Linked DNA regions of Homo sapiens: region 2 is reported to be linked to region 1. The links are microRNA targets in miRTarBase. Many come from high-throughput screens and were not tested one by one. Region 1 holds a microRNA gene; the other region holds the end of a gene's coding sequence. Distances are from middle to middle.

Evidence for each region. The annotated mature microRNA hsa-miR-7158-3p reads CUGAACUAGAGAUUGGGCCCA and lies in region 1 at 1,480-1,500, opposite strand. An mRNA with a match to its seed (bases 2 to 7 or 8) in the 3' UTR can be bound and repressed. Matches are read on the target gene's strand: a 7mer-m8 pairs with bases 2 to 8, a 7mer-A1 pairs with bases 2 to 7 and ends in A, and an 8mer does both.
Region 2: miRTarBase lists SLC30A6 as a target of hsa-miR-7158-3p. Seed matches in the 3' UTR shown: 7mer-A1 at 1,089-1,095 and 7mer-A1 at 3,098-3,104.

Annotation. Positions count from the first base shown.
Region 1 is chr2:5,971,929-5,976,211 of GRCh38, reverse strand. MIR7158 (microRNA 7158) reads right to left here and starts at 1,550; the gene lies at 1,480-1,550. It overlaps SILC1 (sciatic injury induced lincRNA upregulator of SOX11), which reads right to left. Exons shown (of 2, transcript NR_026832.1): 2 at 1-4,283. RefSeq lists enhancers at 1-602, 1,482-1,983.
Region 2 is chr2:32,220,166-32,224,165 of GRCh38, forward strand. It overlaps SLC30A6 (solute carrier family 30 member 6), which reads left to right. Exons shown (of 14, transcript NM_017964.5): 14 at 48-4,000. The coding sequence ends at 548. Among named protein-coding and RNA genes, the nearest start is that of NLRC4, 43 kb to the right of the region's middle.

The DNA of each region.
Region 1 (4,283 bases):
TTGCTAAGGCATTGAGATTCAAGGTCAAGGGAGGCACAGTCCCCATGGACCTTGCAGCCGGGGACACAGCTAATGGACAGGAGACATTCATAGTCCAACTCACTTGCTTTATTTCAGTGACTTTATTTTCCATTTTGTTATTACCTTCTTTTTCAAGTCTCCTGTTGGAATTTGGATTATGTTACTTTATTTTTTCCTTTAAAATGCTTTTTGAATGATCAAAGGCCCATTTTAATCCCTCTATTGTCTGCAGCTCCTTAGAGGTGAATTCTCCTTTTACAGAGTCTGTTTGCCCTCAAGGTGATGAGTCTCCACAGGTGCTGGGGGCACACCTTCCTTAGGAATCATTCTCCCATGGAGTCTCAGAAATGCCTTGAGCTCTGCAGGCATCTTCACTGGAGCAATGATTTTTATGCTGGGCTTGAGACTTTTGGGTTGCAAGCTGTTCCACATCAGCTTTTACCTTAAATTCTTGCTCAGATTTTCCAAACAGCAAAGACAGTGTGAATGGAGGCCCCTTACACCAGCCACAGTTGGCGTTCTGACTCCTCTGTGTGACTCCTATCCCACACCAGGCCCAGTCCCAGCATTAGCTTTTGTGATGCATTCCTTGGTACAGAAGGCTAAGCATCGCTAATTTCTATTCAGAGACACAGGGACTCTACCCTTGTTCCTGGCTTTATAAAGCTGCTCAGTTCTAATGTGCACTGCACACAACAGCTGCCAGGGCCACAAACACCCCCAAGCAGACGTTAGGCTCTCAACCCCTAAGATACAGTTTTCCTCTCAATAGCTCATAAGACTCTGCCCTCTGACGTGAGAAAATAGAATTCTGTTGTGCTTTTTAAGTATGCCTATGGCATCTTTTAAAATATACCATATATGATCCAGTATTTCTTTGTGTTTGGAGTGTGAATCTGCAGGTGAAAGAGTGTGTTCTACACGTGCCCGATCCATCCTCATTACACAAATTCACCCTCTACTTTAAAACAGGGAATTTGGGCCTTTGACAGGAAAGAAGCCGGACAGTCATGGGGCCAAACTGGAATCAAATGTAAATATTTAATTTCCTCCTGTTAAAAGCAGAGTGGACCCACAGTCCCTCCCAAAGTAAAATGCACAATAATGTGTCAAGAGCCCTGGACTTATTGCTTCTCGGACGTTAGCAAAGATCAAGCGCAGACCACTGGCTTTGGGGTCTGATACCCCAGGAGAGTCCCGGTTTCGTGCTCATGTGTTATGTGACCCTTGACCCCTCGTTCAATTCTCACGTGCTTCACTCTCCTAAGCCATGCAAAAGGGACATAAGGATATCTCCTGAAAGCAGAGTCGGCTGGAAGGCTGGAAGGCTTATGTGAAGCAGTTGCATATCACTTAGCACTTAGAATGGGCAAATAAAAAATGGTTTAGCTTCTCCTTTGTGGGAACAGAGACTGGGATGGTTTGTATCCTGGCTCTCCTGAAACTGCGCTGCCGAGCTGGGCCCAATCTCTAGTTCAGCTCGCTTCAGAAAGCCAAAGGCAGAAGGCTGCAGGACCAGAGATTGAGCCTGGCCACACAGCCCCTTCTTCCTGATGCCACATGGCTGGTGATCCTGGTCACAGCCTGCCTGAGCTGGTGGAACACAGCTTTGTCGGACTGTTGAAGATAACCCTACAGAAAAATCACCTGGTGAAGGGCAAATGCGCATGTTTTGTCATAAGACCAACTGGGTTTCCTAAATCAGCCAAGCCGTTTATCCTGTGGTCTTGGCAACAGGCTGACCTTCCTTTTACAGAGGAGATGGTGATGCCTGGTCCCAGAGGAGCGCTGTGAGCACCCAGGCATGGATTACAGTGCTTAGCACAAAGTAACATTAAATGTGAATCTCTCTTCTAAAACTATGTTACAAAAAGCAGTAATTCATTCCAAGCAAGACTGTCAGTTTAGGTGAATCAAGTAATCATAATTTCTCTAAAACCTTTTTTCTACTGTAAAAGCTTTAATTTTTGTCTTTATTTTTATTGATACATCTTAGATGTGCATATTTTGGGAGTACATATGATAATTCAACACATTCATATAATCAAATCAGCATAATTGGGATATTTGTCACCTTAAATATTGATCTTTTCTTGATGCTATGAGCATTAGGTTAATGGGTACAAATGTACAGTTAGATAAAAAGAATAAGACCTGGTCTTCAATACATCATGGTGGCTATAGTTAACATTAACCATTGTACATTTCAAAATGCTAGAAGAGAATAATTCCAACACGTTTTTTGTTTGCTTACTTTTTTCTGAATTCTAATAGACTGATACATCAGTCCCTGCTGTAGCGAAAATAATGACTTCCTCAAAATGCACTTCAAGAATGTGACCTCAATGGATGTAACAGAAAGAACCTGCTCTTGGTGTTTGGGAAAGAAAAGGTGTTAGGCCCGCCACAATTCCTTCTCCTCCCAGGTGATTCAGAGTCCTGGAGGACAGAATACCTTGGGAACTTGAGTGAACTCCTTTCACCAGCCCAGCCTTGACTCAGATTCCAGCTCATATAGCTCACAAGCTCCACTGCCCAGGCCAAACCCCTCAAATGCTTAGGTTTTGTTTGTTTATTTGAAAGAGTTTTGCTCTTGTTGCCCAGGCTGGAGTGCAATGGCGCAATCTTGGCTCACTGCAACCTCCGCCTCCTGGGTTCAAGCGATTCTCCTGCATTAGCCTCCCGGGTAGCTGAGATTACAAGTACCCACCACCACGCCCGGCTAATTTTTTGTGTGTTTTTAGTAGAGACGGGGTCTCACCATGGTGGCCAGGCTGGTCTCAAACTCCTGACCTCAGGTGATCCGCCTGCCTCGGCCTCCCAAAGTGTTGGGATTACAGGCGTGAGCCACCACGCTCGGTCTAATGGTCAGGTTTTTATTCCTGTATATGTCAAGTAAGGACAATAAGAATTACTTCAAAGTGTTGTTAGGAGCTAATGCATGTAAAGCATTTATAAGAATTTTTGGCACCCAGCAGATGCTCAGAAACTTTTAGCTCATAATATTAGCATTGCTATAAAAATAACATTAATAAAAACCAACAACATTACTACCGTGAGAAAGTCATAATAATATACATCAAAGGATATTAATAATATACAATGACTTTCCCATATGCCATTTGTATGGCCAGAAAGCCAGACACAACTCCTGACTTCCTCCTGCGATTCAGACGACATTGCTTGGATGCAAACTTACCTGAAAGAACCACTTAATAGGTTTGTCACTCTAAGCAAATACTAGTGTTCAAGAAATGTTCTCAGGTGATCTAAAACACAGTCCAGAATACCTGCTTATGGCTTTTCAAATGTTTGCAATACAAGGCCTGCCTCTGTGCTCAGCTCCCAGAGAGAATTTTTCTAATAGATGCAGTTTTTCCTATTAGCAATGGAACATACACATTTGAAACCCAGCTGGCAGCCTCTATGATTGTAGGCTAAATCTCGTAAACAAAACTTAAATGTAAAGAAGTGTTTGTACTAGCTGCAAATGGGCTACTGGTTTGATGCCACAGGGGAAGTTGTTAGCAGGTGACATCAGAGGATGGATTAGTTAGGGTAACATTGTGAACCGAGAGACAGGAGAGATCTTGTCACTCACTGAAGGCGAGACTCTTCTAGAGAGTTGTTTTCTCCCCAAGATCTGCGCCTTTCCCCAGACTGAGTCAGGATCTCCGAGGTTAGGACCTAGCTACGTATATTTTGCACAAAGAACTCTGATTTGGACTCCAGGATTTAGAACCACAAATGTGCATACAGACCCAATTTTGTACATGGGAGGTGAGGTCAGATAGATAAAGTAACTTGCCAGCAGTCACTCATCTCACTAGTGTCACAGCTAGAATTAGAACCTATGGACTTTTGGTCCCTGGTTTGCAGCAGTTTCTGTAACACTAGTGGATATGAAACAACATGAAACACAAAGAACTGAGTCCTCGGAGGTGTGCAGCCCAGCAAAACTGAGCCTCTGGGTGGGAGTGGAGGGCAGCCAGAAAGAAAGGCCTGCGGTGGGTCTCTGCGTCTTAGATTTAGGAGGTAACCCCCACTGCCAGATGGTTTAGGTGATGGTGGCCGTGTGGGAGTGTGGTGATGGCTGGGGAAAATGACAAAGGCAATTCCCTTATGATAGCTGCTGAGGAGAGCAGTTGACACAACCCTGCTGCCATTTTTGACTCTTTCTTCACGAGTTGAGGATAAGGGGATATAACCGCAGCCACCAGCATGGAGATTCCCTAGGTTCTTAAACTTACAGGTTATTAAGG
Region 2 (4,000 bases), 26 Mb from region 1:
TAGTATAATTCTAAGCAATCTCTTTGTTATGATTTTGCCCCTTTTAGGCTGGATCAGTGCATGTAAGAATTCGACGAGATGCCAATGAACAAATGGTTCTTGCTCATGTGACCAACAGGCTGTACACTCTAGTGTCTACTCTAACTGTTCAAATTTTCAAGGATGACTGGATTAGGCCTGCCTTATTGTCTGGGCCTGTTGCAGCCAATGTCCTAAACTTTTCAGATCATCACGTAATCCCAATGCCTCTTTTAAAGGGTACTGATGATTTGAACCCAGTTACATCAACTCCAGCTAAACCTAGTAGTCCACCTCCAGAATTTTCATTTAACACTCCTGGGAAAAATGTGAACCCAGTTATTCTTCTAAACACACAAACAAGGCCTTATGGTTTTGGTCTCAATCATGGACACACACCTTACAGCAGCATGCTTAATCAAGGACTTGGAGTTCCAGGAATTGGAGCAACTCAAGGATTGAGGACTGGTTTTACAAATATACCAAGTAGATATGGAACTAATAATAGAATTGGACAACCAAGACCATGATAGACTCTAACTTATTTTTATAAGGAATATTGACTCCTTGGCTTCCAATTTATTTAGTAATCCAACTTTGCATTGACTGTTTAATCATTTACTCTAAATGTTAGATAATAGTAGTCTTGTTCACATTTCATGAAACCTATGAAACTATATTTTTGTAAAATGTATTTGTGACAGTGAAATCCTCGTAAATGTTAAAGGCTTTAAATAGGCTTCCTTTAGAAAATGTGTTTCTTTAAATTTGGATTTTGGTATCTTTGGTTTTGTAGTTGACTGCAGTGTGATGTGACCTTACCTTTATAAGAGCCACTTGATGGAGTAGATCTGTCACATTACTAAGATACGATATTTCTTTTTTTTTCCGAGACGGAGTCTTGCTCTGCCACTGTGCCCGGCCAATACATTATTATTAACTTAAGGCTGTACTTTATTAAGGCTTCCTTAGTTTTTGTTTTGTTTTGTTTTTTGAGATGGAGTCTCACTCTGTCGCCCAGGCTGGAATGCAGTGGCATGATCTCAGCTCACTGCAACCTCTGCCTCCTGAGTTCAAATGATTCTCCTGCCTCAGCCTCCCGAGTAGCTGGGATTACAGGCACCTGCCACCACGCCCAGCTAATTTTTGTATTTTTAGTAAAGACGGGGGATTTCACCATGTTGGCCAGGCTGGTCTTGAACTCCTGACCTCATGATCCACCCACCTTAGCCTCCCAAAGTGCTGGGATTAGGTGTGAGCCACCGCACCTGGCCGATATTTTCTTTAATGAAATTTATAAATATGCTTCTTGAATAATACACATTTTGGGAAAGGGAAAAATGTCTGTTCAAAAAGTAAAAGTCTCTTTTATAGCTTTTCCAAACTTAATTGCTAAATTTTTCTTTGAGGTTCTCCTGAATTATGTCTTACAAACTAAAAGCAAAAATTTTTAGCAGAAATTTTGGAATACATTCTATCTAGCACAATTTGAATTTTTAATTATCAAGATTTTTGTTAAAGTTTCTCTCCTTTAAAAATTTTAGTACATTTGTAAATAGTCCATGGTTCTCAGTGTTTTATTTTGATTAAGTGACTACCCAACTTTTGGTGATATGCAGTGAAAGAATCCCAATTTTCTATGTTACATTTAATCAAATACTGACATAATGAATTTATCTTTCCTGACACATTTTCATTCATTGGCTTTTTAATTTCTTATTTTATTAACAAAATATATCAGATATATTACCAAAACACATGGAGTTCCATACATAATATGGAATTTGATGTCTTTTCAAGTTGCACAAAGAATTTGAGCATATATAATTTTACCAAAGCATAATGGACCTTAGATTATAGAATACAGCATTGTTAGGTCTGCAGTGGGCAGTTTCTTTTTGTTTTGCTTTGTCAAAAATGGGAAATTGTTAACTGTGATGAAATGTGAGAATTACATAGATTATGTTATTTTTTAGTTGTTTTCCAAATGCAGAGTTTAAGGACTTTCTAACATGGCTAGTATTACTTCCAAAAAGTATAACAAGCAGCAGTCACACATGACCTAGGAGGGTTTTTTATTGTTTTATTTTATTATGCATTCCATAACAGTTTTAAAATGGGATTTTGAGAATGGACTTAACTTTCCTGGAATCCAATGCTCCTGGAGATTTATGACTTTCCCAGCCATCAGCCAGCTATCTAGAGAAGATTTTTGTTTTTCTTTTGCAACAGTTTCTTCAGTCAACTCATTCACTTTCAAATAGGAGCAGCACTTTGAAATCCTTTTTCTTCACTGTGGATTAAAAACATCCAAGAAGCCATCTCTGTCAAGCAGAATTGTCATCTGTGGTAATAAGTGACCATGTCCTAAATACCTTTTTCTTAGTGAGGAGTTGGTCATTGTCTTTGGCATCTGCAACCCCTGTTCAGGCATGTGACCTGCTAAAGAAATACAGCCTACACTACCTTGACTACTGGGGAAAATGATACTTCGTAAAATGTAATAAGGCAACCTGTTCCTTGGCCTTTATCTTATGTTTTCCAACTATTACTGTATCTGTTATTGGTCTACTATTACAGGATGATTCTTCTTCCTCCATTGATCTCAACTAAATATGAATTAGGGTCATGCATGAAATCTGAACTGCCGTGTCCTGAGTTATGGTTAAGAGGTATGTGCTGCCACCCCATGCATGTCTTCCCCATCCCCATAGGATTTTAAAGTGTTCAGGTACCAAACACAGTTCTGTGTGAGGTTTTATGCCTACTTCCTCAACACCAATTCAGAGGCAACACCTGTGCATCTGTCCCACCAAAGGTGCTTTAATACCTACCTTCACTATTTGAGAAAGGACACTCACAGTTGCCTGTGGGTTATGAAAGAATTGGCCCTACGTCCTGCATGTAAGATGTTACAGGGGACATTGGGCCAGGCATTATTATATAGAGAAGTCTTATTTGCCAAGCTCTGACTAACTTCTGGATATGAAAATAAGGAACTTGCCCAGCATAGGCCTATAGGCAGCAGCCTTACTAGTAAATCTTGCCACAGAATCACTTGAAGCTAGACAGAGAAAGAAGTTCAATTTAAATATTTGTCCCATTGTTTGTGATTAGGATGTAAGCTTTGTGGAATGTAATTAACCCTGCTTTACGAAGTCACCATATTATAATAGGAAAAACACTGCCTAGGAGGCAAGAGATCTGAATTCCAGTTCTGATGCTGCCACTGTGTAAGGAAGTAGTTTTATAACCCATGGGCAAATCATCTGAGCTTTCTCATCTGTAAAGTTAGGGAGAGGAATTAATTAGTTGATCTGTAAAATAATCAGCTTCAAAACGTTATGGCTAAATCTGTAGAATGTATGCCCAATTGCTAAACGGATGTTGTGCCCAGAATTTTATCTAGTGACTACCTCAACATACAGGCCAAGCGTTACCTACACCAACACCCAAGCCATTAATTTGAGGTGCCATGAGAATAGGTGAACCACAGCCTAACACCATTTAGGTTTTTGTGTTTTTTTCAGGCTTGCCTCTACTTAAATATATTTAGATGAGAGAGTTCTCTTAGACTTCTTTCTTTGTAAGGAAGGGTTATTTGGGGAAGTGTTGGAAAAAAGATTAGGGCAGGGTACCCTTAGTTTATATAGGGTACAAAAGAATGGGAAACATCTTCCCTTTCTTCTTTAATCTCTGAAGTCATGTTTGGAATTACATATAATGTAGCAGGTACTGGAGAGGACCTGAATTTCAAGCTTCTGATTTAGCTGTTTGTAAACTTCCAAGTTTTGCTTGACTAAAGAATGCTGATCTTTTTTGGGAGTCTGATCTCCTTCTAATATCAGAAAGTGCTTTTTATATTCCAGATTGCTTGAATTAAACTGTTTGGATTAAAGAACATATATGGAGTTTCCTCTCTGGTTTTAAATAATCTTTCTTTATTCAGTAGCTATTAATAATTTATCTCATATTCAGCGAA